Linked DNA regions of Homo sapiens: region 1 is linked to region 2. The links come from fine-mapping of genetic effects on gene expression. A gene starts in region 2. The other region holds a variant in brackets. All regions are shown on one strand. Distances are between the middles of the regions.

Region 1 (5,382 bases), 32 kb after region 2:
TGCATTCTGCTTGACTCTCGTGTGGCTGAACATTTTTTTCTGAGTGGCATAGCCATTCATGTTTCTTCTGTGACGGGTCTGGACACATCCTCAGTGCTCTCATTTTCAGGAGAGCAAGGATGGGGAACGAGGGGATATGCATTGTATTAGTTTGTTTTCATGCTGCTGATAAAGACATACCAGAGACTGGGAAGAAAAAGAGGTTTAATTGGACTTACAGTTCCACATGGCTGGGGAGGCCTCAGAATCATGGCAGGAGGTGAAAGGCACTTCTTACATGGCAGCAGCAAGAGAAAAAGAGGGAGAAGCAAAAGCAGAAAACCCTGATAAACCCATCAGCTCTCATGAGACTTATTCACTATCACAAGAATAGCACGAGAAAGACCGGCCCCCATGATTCAATTACCTCACCCTGGCCCCCTCCCACAACATGTGGGAATTCTGGGAGATACAATTCAAGTTGAGATTTGGGTGGGGACACAGCCAAACTATATCATGCATCACCACCTGATGGCACCCACCCATAACCTCTGCCATGCTGTGTGCCCCCCCACCCATGCCTGTGGGCGAGGCTCCCCAGGCCTGGTGCCTTTGCTGCCAGACTCTGGGTACTTCCATTCACACTCCCATCTCTGGGTGTCCTCAAGATAACCCGATGTTCCCAGGATCCTTCCCTCAATTAACAATGACCTGCCCTAGCCCCATTTCTTCAGCACCGTCTCCATGCTAAGTTACAAGGAGTGGGCCCAAACAAACAACTGAAAGCTAAACGTCTTCACCTAACCAAAATGTTGGCCGTCTGTATTAGTCTGTTTTCATACTGCTATAAAGACTACCTGAGACTGGGTAATTTATAAAGAAAGGAGGTTTAATTGACTCACAGTTCTGCATGGCTGGGGAGGCCTCAGGAAACTTACAATCATGGCAGAAGGTGAAGGGGAAGCAAGGCACATCTTACAAGGCAGCAGAAGAGAAAGAGCATGTAGAAGAAACTGCCACTCTTAAATCATCAGATCACGGCTGGGTGCAGTGGCTCACACCTATAATCCCAGCACTTTGGGAGGTTGAGGCAGGCAGATCACTTGAGGTCAGGAGTTCGAGACCAGCCTGGCCAACATGGTAAAACCCCATCACCACTAAAAATACAAAAATTAGCTCACCATGGTGGCACATGCCTGTAACCCCAGCTACTTGGGAGGCTGAGGCAAGAGAATCGCTTGACATCTGGGAGGTGGAGGTTGCAGTGAGCCAAGATCATGCCACTGTACTCCAGCCTGGGCAACAGAGTGGGACTCCATCTCAAAAAAAAAAAAAAAAAAGGTCAGATCTTGTGAGAACTCCCTCACCATCACAAGAACAGCATTGGGGAAACCGCCTTCATGATCCAATCACTCCCACCAGGTCCCTCCCACAACATGGGGGGATTACAATTTGAGATGAGATTTGGGTGGGGACACAGGGCCAAACCATATCACCACCCACAAAAGCTTTTTGACAAATAACTCTGACTAGGAATTGTAAGAAATGTTTTTAAATGAGTAAGGTGGAAGCAAACATTATTCCCATTTTATAGACAAGAAATGTGTGTCTCTGGATCTGTGACACTCCATAAACCAGGGAAAAGGCAGAGACAATGACTGATTTTCTGCCGCCCAATCCAGTTGCCCAACCCTCCTGGCTCAATGCCAGGACTTCCCTGTCTTTGATTAGGGAAAGTGGAGCCACCCACTCCCTACATGCAACTGTTACACACCCAGTGTCCCAGAAATGACATTCAACTTCACTATAGCGACTGCTTTTACTGACATCATTTTTAGCAGACGTTTTACTATAAAAATGGGTGGGGAGAAATAAAGCAGATAAACTGCTGCCAAGGACCATCACTGCTAGGGTGAAACTGGGGGCACACGGTATAGCTCAAATGCACCCCAGGTCCAGCCCAAGCCTTGCTCAAAACCCACCCAGGAACCAGACCTATCATCCAAGGTTGTCTCTCCAATGACCTTAGCAGGTTCAGAATAACCCTCTAATATTCCTCATTTACTGTAGTTGCTTATTATGAACCCACCAACTATTAATTCAATCTTTTTTGAATTCTCAGTTTTCAGTATATTTCTCTTCAGGCTGTGGTACATATCACAACATATAGTAATTATTTGCTATTTTCTGCTTCCCTGTCTAGACTTTGAGTAAGTTGAGGGTAGAATTTGTTCTATTTCATAATCTTAGAATTTGACAAATAGCAGGTATTCTTAACCATAATTTTGTTGAAGGAAGGAATCAATGAATAAAAATTTCCTGAGTTTACTGTTTACTGCAAAAAGACTGTATGCTGTTTTACGTTTTCTTCTTTTAAGGTCTAACATCAATATGTTGATGTTTGGTAAATATAATTTCAATCCCAGTTGCATCTCTGAGTCCAGGCAAGAGTACTACAAAAAGTATAAATAGAGGTCAAGTGCAGTTGCCCTCTGCAAGCAAGACCACTTAGAACTCTTCAATGGCTCTTTGACAAACCTTCAGTGGGATTTCTGTCAAAGCTGACAATGGATAAAATTATAGAAAGGAGGGAAAGCCTTGATAAGGAGTCCTTAATGAGTTCGTCACTAAGTTAATTCAACATTGAAAGGGATAGAAGATGTTAATTCCACACACACGTGAAAGAAATCAACAATCAGGCCTCATCTGAGAGAACCATGATGGGGAAGGCTGGGGCTGATGGATGAGGGGTGTGAGGCAGGGCAGAAAGCCTCCACGTTGCTGCAGCAATGCAAAAATAGGCACCTTGCCGTAGGCCTCTCTGGCACTCCATCTTGTCTCTCTTCCCTGGAGAAAAGGCAAGCTGTATTCAATCATCTTTTCAATGCTAAAACCAGGCTTTCCTGTCGGAGTTGGGGCCAGAGATGTTTCCATCCCCTCTTGCAAAAAGGGTATTCTTAAGAGGCCTTAAGTCTTCAGCATTGATAGTTTCTGGGAACAAAATAGAAATCAAAATCTCACCTTGTGTTCCCTTCCTCTTCCTGGACAGAGAATGGGACAGGCCCAGGCCATCCAGATCACTATGAACCTTATCAGAAACTTCAGTCCATTTTCTCCGTTCCCTTCCCTGGGACTTGCATGCTATAATCTCCATACCCCTCCTTCCCCACTC[T/C]CCAGGCTTAGTGGGTGAGGCAGAGAGTGAGAGCCAGGCTTACCTGCCTTTTCTCCTCAGTGGGAAGAAGCTCAGTAACTGAGCTCAGACGCTAGTGGCATACCTACCAAGAGGATGACATAAATGCCTCCTGTGGCCCTGAGATAGGCAGAGCTCTGCTGGCAGCCCAACCATATGTTCACTCGTTCATTAACAAACATCCACAGAGGCAGGCTGCTCTGGCCTGGAGGGGGATGTCCTACACTAGACGACTCAGGTTCATAGAGCCAGGCCTCATTCCACCCCCACTGGCTCAAGTGACTTTCTGGTGACCAGAAACTGGAGAGCTCTTTTTTTTTTTTTTAGACGGGGTCTTGCTCTCTCGCCCAGGCTGGAGTATACTGACACAATCTCGGCTCACTGCAACCTCTGACTCCCAGGTTCAACTGATTCTCCTGCCTCAGCCTCCCAAGTAGCTGGGATTACAGGCGAGTGCCACCAGGCCCATCTAATTTTTTGTGTTTTTTAGTAGAGACGGGGTTTCGCCATGTTGGCCAGGCTGGTCTCAAACTCCCGATCTCAGGCGATCCGCCCGCCTCAGCCTCCCAAAGTGCTGGGATTACAGGTGTGAGCCACCATGCCTGGCCCAGAGCTCTTAACTACAATGACTATATGCAGAAGAACAAACTAACACGGAAGATGGCTAGGAACTGCGTAAGCCAAGACTCTGCAGTAAGACACACTTGAGTTCTGGTCCTCACTCTGCCGTTTACTCACAGTCCAACTGCAGATGGGACCTCACCTCTCTGAGCCTCAGTTTCCTCATTTGTAAAATAGGCAAATATTGGCACCTACCTCATAGAATTAGTGCGAGGCTTAACTGAGGTGATCTAGGCAAAGCACTTAGCTTGGTACCTAGCACATATTAAGTGCTCAATAATAGGTGATGGTGATGATGTAAGTTGGACACAAGAGAAAAGGACACATACTAACTGATAATCACACAGAGCCACTGACTGGATTTGGTATCTTTCTCTGACATTCAGCTTTTCTTACCATCTGTCAGCATGCCACACTCCTTCAGCCTTGAATTATATGCTGCCTTGTGGTTTTGCTCTTATAAAACAAATAGAATGTACTAGTCTTCCTGTGGCTACTGAAAAAAAAAAAAAAAAAGACCACAAACCAGTGATTTACAACACAGAAAGTTACTCTCTCACAGTTCTGAAGACCAGAAGTCTGAAAGTACTATGTTGTCAGGGCTGTGCTCCCTCCAAAGGATCTAGGGGGTGATCTATTACTTACTTCTTCCAGCTTTGGGTGGCTGTCAGCATGCCTTGGCTTGTAGCTGCACCACTCCAATTTCTACCTAGTCTTCTTATCATCTCATCTGTGTCTGTTTTCTCCTCAGTGTGTCTCTTATAAAAACACTTGTCATGCCAGACATGGTGGCTCATGCCTGTAATCCCAGCATGTTGGGAGGCCGAGGTGGGCAGATCACTTGAGGTCAGGGGTTTGAGACCAGCCTGGTCAACATGGTGAAACCCCATCTCTACTAAAAATACAAAAATTAGCCAGGCGTGGTGGCGGGCTCCTGTAATTGCAGCTACTCAGGAGGTGGAGGCAAGAGAATTGCTTGAAACTGGGAGGCGGAGGTTGCAATGAACTGAGATCACACCATTGCACTCCAGCCTGGGTGACAGAGCAAGACTCCACCTCAAAAAAAAAATAATAATAATAACTTGGCTAATCCAGGGTGATCTCCTCAAATCAAGATCCCTAATTTCATTACGTCTGCAAAGTTAACATTTACAGTTCTGGAAATTAGGATGTAGACGTCTTTTTGGGAACCATCTATCTTAGACTGTTCAGGCAACTATAACAAAATACCAGATGCTGGGTAGCTTACAAACAACAAACATTTATTTCTCACAGTTCTGGAGGCTTGGAAGTCCAAGATCAAGGCACTGGAAGCTGTAGTGTCTGGTGAGGTCTTTTAACTATGTCCTCATTGCGGAAGGGGCCAGGGATCTCTCTTCCTTTTATAAGGCTTCTAGTCTCTTTTTTTTCTTTCTTTCTTTTGAGACAGGGTCTCACTCTGTCCCCCAGGATGGAGTACAGTGGCACAATTTTGGCTAGCTGAAACCTCTGCCTCCCAGGCTCAAGTGATCCTCCCACCTCAGCCTCCTGAGTAGCTGGGACTACAGGCGCATGCCACCATGTCCAGCTAATTTTTTTTTTTTTTTTTTTTT
Region 2 (5,382 bases):
TATTATAAATATTTTGAAATGCCCCCTTTTCCGTCCCAAAATGGAATCATAGAAATTACAACCTACCTACACGTATAATCTAGAAAATCAATGTGAGCCCTAACAATATCATAGAGAAATAAGAATAATTTATAACAAAATAATTTAAATATTTGAGCACAGCCACACCAGAAGACAAAATGAAACAGACACTTGCACCCATGCCTAGAATCACTACGAAGGTGACATTCTAACAGACTGTTGTGTCAGTGACTTAAATGTTTGTTACACTGGTTGATGACAGCAATGTAAATTTCTCAAATGGTACACATTTTAGAATGTTAATTTTCAAACAAATTTTCTCAATTTACCCTGGAAAATATAGTTTATATTAAAATTTGTGCAAAATATACTTGCTGTTTACAAGTGAAAGTGAGTCAGGTTCTAGGCCCTGATAGTTGCTCTTTACCTACCCTGGTGTCTGAGGAACACTCCAGAAGTGTATGGAATGCAGGACAGGTTTTGATTGTTCTCGCCAGGGCATTGCTCGCCATCCAGCATCCCTGGCTGCCATCACTCAGTGCCACTGTGACAACCCAAAGTGTCCCCACAGATTCCTCCAACTCTACTTAGGGAGTGCTGTCTCCTGTGGAGAATCATTGCTCTGAGATTCCACCAAAAGATATAAATCAGACCAAAGGAAAAGCCAAAGTTTTTAAGCATGGTATCTAGACAAGGCAACTCACATGACAATAAGACACAAAACTTTCTCACTCAAGATAGCAGGTTTGGTTTGGTTTGATTTTTAACTCAAGTTTGATAGTGTGACCAACATCATGTTAGGCCTTGTGAGAGACAGAAGTTGGGAAGAAACACCCCCCACCCCCCTCCACACACACACGGACACACACGGTCCCTGCCCTCAAGGACTTCCAGTCTAGTAAGTAAGTGGCAACAGCTACAGTACAATCCAGGTCAGCGAAAAATGGAGCCTAAAACAGAGCAAAGAAAGACGCAGGTACGTATAAGAAGTGGGGCCCCTGGGCCTCACAGTGGGCACTTTACCCCGGGTTGGATTTCATGGAGGCCCCTCCGGCCGTGTTGTCCGCAGGGTACGATTTTATGAAGGCTCTGAGTTGGTGGCTGACTCTGGCGTCACCATAGACACCACAATGCGTGGAGGCCGACTTGGCGTTTTCTGCTTCTCTCAAGAAAACATCATCTGGTCCAACCTCAAGTATCGCTGCAATGGTAATGTGCATTCTCGTTACTGTTCAACATTGTTACTAGAATTAGTCAAACACTGCCACCTTATTTTTATACCGCACTTCCCCCCCAAAAGCCCAACGCTCATACCACATAGTCATTAAAACCTGATAGTCCCTGTGTACCAGAAGTAAAAAGCAGATCACATTTATCCTATTTTATCCATGTGGAAATTAAGACCCATAGAATTTAACTGCATGGTTTAGGGTTTGGGGTTCAGTGAGAAATCCAGTCAGATTTAATTTACAGGAAGCCTTTATTTTCATGTGGTTAAAACATAATCACAGATGCAAAATCCATTCTGCCTGCTGATTTTCTGCACGGCCGGGAAGGAGCACTCCTGGGCTTTAAGCCAACGGTTTGCAAAGCAGCCTGCAGGAGAAAATGGCGGCGAGGGCCTGCGGGGCGTCCTGGGCGGGCTAACAGCGCCCCCTACAGGACGCCTGAGCCGCGGGCGGGGGTCCGGGGTCCGGGGTGGAAGGAGCCTCGCTAACCTCCCTGTGCCCATTCCTATTGCAGACACCATCCCTGAGGACTTCCAAGAGTTTCAAACCCAGAATTTCGACCGCTTCGATAATTAAACCAAGGAAGCAATCTGTAACTGCTTTTCGGAACACTAAAACCATATATATTTTAACTTCAATTTTCTTTAGCTTTTACCAACCCAAATATATCAAAACGTTTTATGTGAATGTGGCAATAAAGGAGAAGAGATCATTTTTAAAAACCGTGTTGCTCAGACATTGCTCTCACGTGGCTCAGGCTTTGAGGTGCCCGTTCTCGGAGGGATCCCTGTTAACTTGCAGGGTGGTAGTTTCTTCTCAGACCCGGTGGCCGATAAGATGAGCCTATGCGTGAATCACAAGGCCCAGGCCAGAGGTCTCAGCTGGGGTCCCCCCAGTTTGCTCCATACAAAACGCCTAACCGTTCCATGCTCACCTTGGCAGCCTCCTTATTTCGGGTAAGGGGTCTCAGAAACACGTGTTTGGGGTGGCACCTTCCCTAGGGAGGCGTTTTTCTGACCTAGTCCTGGGACAGATTTGCCCAATTCTTTCTGATGCTGTCATCCCATCCCACACCTTCCACAGACTTCTATTCTGGCCCCTTCAACGTAATTCTTAAGCTTATTTATATATTTGGCTCCCCCTAGTGGACTGTAAGCATATTGACAATAAAGGATCATGTCATTACAATCAATATCCCCACAGTACCTGGAATGTAGTAAATAGCCAGTAAATGTTTACTGAATTAATAAACGAAGAATGAATGAATGAATGCCTCTTAAAGGACAGTAGAGTGTACATGATCATAAAAGTCCTCCTCAACTCAAAAAGTCACAACATATCCTCTATTTGTGGTACCAGTAGCTGGATGTACAGCACAGAAACTTGCCTAATTTGTACACTAGCCTTTCTTGTATTTCAATTGTAAATCAAGATCCAAGCAAATTTTTATAAATTCTCTAGAAATTTTGTTTCAAAGAATATTGCTGTGCGGTTATATATTTTCTTATTCCAGAATTCCTAGAGATATATTAAATCATGTATGAAGAAAAAAACACCACAGTTTTATCATGACTTTAACAGTGAGAAAATACAATGGTGCATGCATGAGATCTGGAGGATTTCTGGACATCCTCCTCTCATGTACAGCCTGGAGATGTGTGTGGCCTTGTAATCCAGGACATCTGATCTCCTACATCAAAAACTCCAATGGGGCCAGGTGTGGTGGCACTTGCCTGTGGTCCCAAGCACTTTGGGAGGCCAAGGCAGGCAGATCACTTGAGGCCAGGAGTTCAAGACCAGCCTGGCCAACGTGGCGAAACCCATCTCTACTAAAAATACAAAAATTAGCCAGGTGTGGTGCCACTTGCCTATAGTCCCAGCTATTTGGGAGGTTGAAGTGGGAGAATCACTTGAGCTGGGGAGGCAGAGGCTGCAGTGAGCAGAGATTGCACCACTGTACTCCAGCCTGGGCAATGAGAGTGAGGCTGGTGAAAGGAGGCAGCAACCCACACCATGCCCACCCCTGGGGCAGCCTCCCTGTTGTCGGCTGTGCAAGCCCAAGAACGCAGTATGTCCACAGGAAACAGACTCTCTTGGTTAAATCTTTTGTGTCTATAACTATTTTAGAAACCATGGGCCCACAGGAGATCCAGAACATAATTCCATCCCTTAGGGAGCTTATTACATTTTTGGGAAGACAAAACTTGTTATTTATGCAAAACAAGAAACAAAGACGCATGTAGAACCAGCAGTGTGCTGAAGCCAACTCCTACCAGCTCATAAGAGCCAACTATTCAAGTTTTAGGAATATTGTGAGCCAGTTAAACGGTTGGTAGTTTGAAATTGGCCATGGTGGGAGTATTTACACAGAAACTGGCAAACACTACAAATCAGGGCTCCAGAGAACTGGTTGTTAAATATTTATCAGCACACAAGTGATTATTCTACCTTGTCCTATTCCTAGTTGGCCCTCCTTATATTTTTGAAGCTGATGTAGAAAACTTGAGGCTTTCAGAAAATTTCTTGCATAAGAAATGAAGTAAGAAAAGTGAAAATGGGTGGGGTGCTATGGCTCACACCTGTAATCCTAGCACTTTGGGAGGCCTAGGTGGGAGGATCGCTTGAGGTCAGGAGTTTGGGACCAGTCTGGCCAACATGGTAAAACCCCATCTCTACTAAAAATACAAAAATTAGGCCAGGTGCAGTGGCTCCTGCCTATACTCCCAGCTCCTCAGGTGGCTGAAGCACAAGAATCTCTTGAACCCGGGAGGCGGAGGTTGCAGTGAGCTGAGATCGTGCCACTGCACTCCAGCCTGGGCGACAGAGCAAGACGTGTCTCCAAAAACAAAAACAAAAAAAAAAAAAAGTGAAAATCAGGAAGCACTTGAGAGAAGCTAGCCAGTTGCAGACTGACGGGATGAGCTAGCAGGTGTGGTATGCTCTCCCCCAGGTAACTCCCTGGGCTTCTTGGATACTTGTTATACTCAACCTTAGCACAATGACTCAAATTCCTATTACAGTTCCATTAGGTTAGTAAGAGCCTCATTTGAATCTTACACCTCTAGGACTGAGTGGCCATCAGTCTCTCACCAACTAGTATGAATTCATTCCAATGCCCATTCACCTCCTGACTTTTCATGGAGATCGAGAAGACTGAGGAGCTGGGCATGGTGGTGTGCACCTGTGGTCCTGGCTACCTGGGAGGCTGAATGGGGAGGATCACTTGAGCCCAGGAGTTCAAGTCCAGCATGGGCAACATAGCAAGATCCTGTCTCACTTTTTTTTTTTTTTTTTAAGTACTGGGGGAATGGGAGGCGTGGCTGGGAAAGAAAAGAGGCATTGTCACTGTGGGGGAATGGGAGGCGTGGCTGGGAAAGAAAAGAGGCATTGTCACTGTAGGGAAAAGATCATGGCTGAGTAGAATCCCACGGGAAGTGTGGGAGATCTCTGGGGGCAGGATGAGGGCACTGGGGGCAGCCAGAGGAGGCCTGGGGGCATGGGAGCAGGTGCACAAAGGGATGTGCAGCCCTTTTTGCCTACACTCAAGAAAAAGGAAAAAAAAACTCTTCCTTCTCCCCATCCAGGTTATTAGTCCTAGGCTCCAGAAGTATTATGGTGATTATCCTTAGGTTAATTTTGGAGACAGGCTATAGAGTTAAAGAGAATGAGGAAGATATAGAATCCAGCCACCTGCTATTGAAACATCTGTAGGCATTTTTTATTGCCTAGGCTAGAAGATAACTGGGAACAGACTCAAGCAGCAAAAAAGAATCTGGTCCAGAAGTGAGGCCGTGGGCAAACTAGATACTGTACAGCATAAATCTAGGGGTGAGAGGTGGGGTGCCCCTGTTTGGGATACACGCCTGGGGTCCCCAGTAACATCGGGACTGTAAGGGTGGCTCAACCTTTCAGTGGCATGAAGAAACCCCCTGCAGTGTCCACAGCTCCGCATCTTACAGCCCCGCCCAATTTGGTCATAGGCAACCTCAGGAGACAGAGACGCTCACCCCAAATTTCCTGGGGCAGTATAGTTTCCACAGTGGGTGAGGGTGTTTTATTCCAGAGAAATAATTCTAGTACTATAGAATTAAGTATAGAGATGATGAAGTAAATTGGACCCATCATCCTAATA

What was found. PIP is the estimated chance that this variant, and not a neighbour inherited with it, causes the effect.
Region 1: its variant is fine-mapped to the expression of THBS4-AS1 in blood mononuclear cells (TOPMed, PIP 0.93).

What each region holds. Positions count from the first base shown.
Region 1 is chr5:80,113,354-80,118,735 of GRCh38, forward strand. It overlaps a transcript of SERINC5 not described here. Among named protein-coding and RNA genes, the nearest start is that of THBS4-AS1, 32 kb to the left of the region's middle. The variant T/C (reference allele first, on the strand shown) is at 3,152.
Region 2 is chr5:80,081,316-80,086,697 of GRCh38, forward strand. It overlaps THBS4-AS1 (THBS4 antisense RNA 1), which reads right to left and starts at 2,350. Exons shown (of 8, transcript NR_109930.1): 1 at 2,185-2,350; 2 at 1,045-1,222. It overlaps THBS4 (thrombospondin 4), which reads left to right. Exons shown (of 22, transcript NM_003248.6): 21 at 1,091-1,230; 22 at 1,765-1,972. The coding sequence ends at 1,826. RefSeq lists silencers at 1,659-1,748, 2,864-3,078 and an enhancer at 4,511-4,805.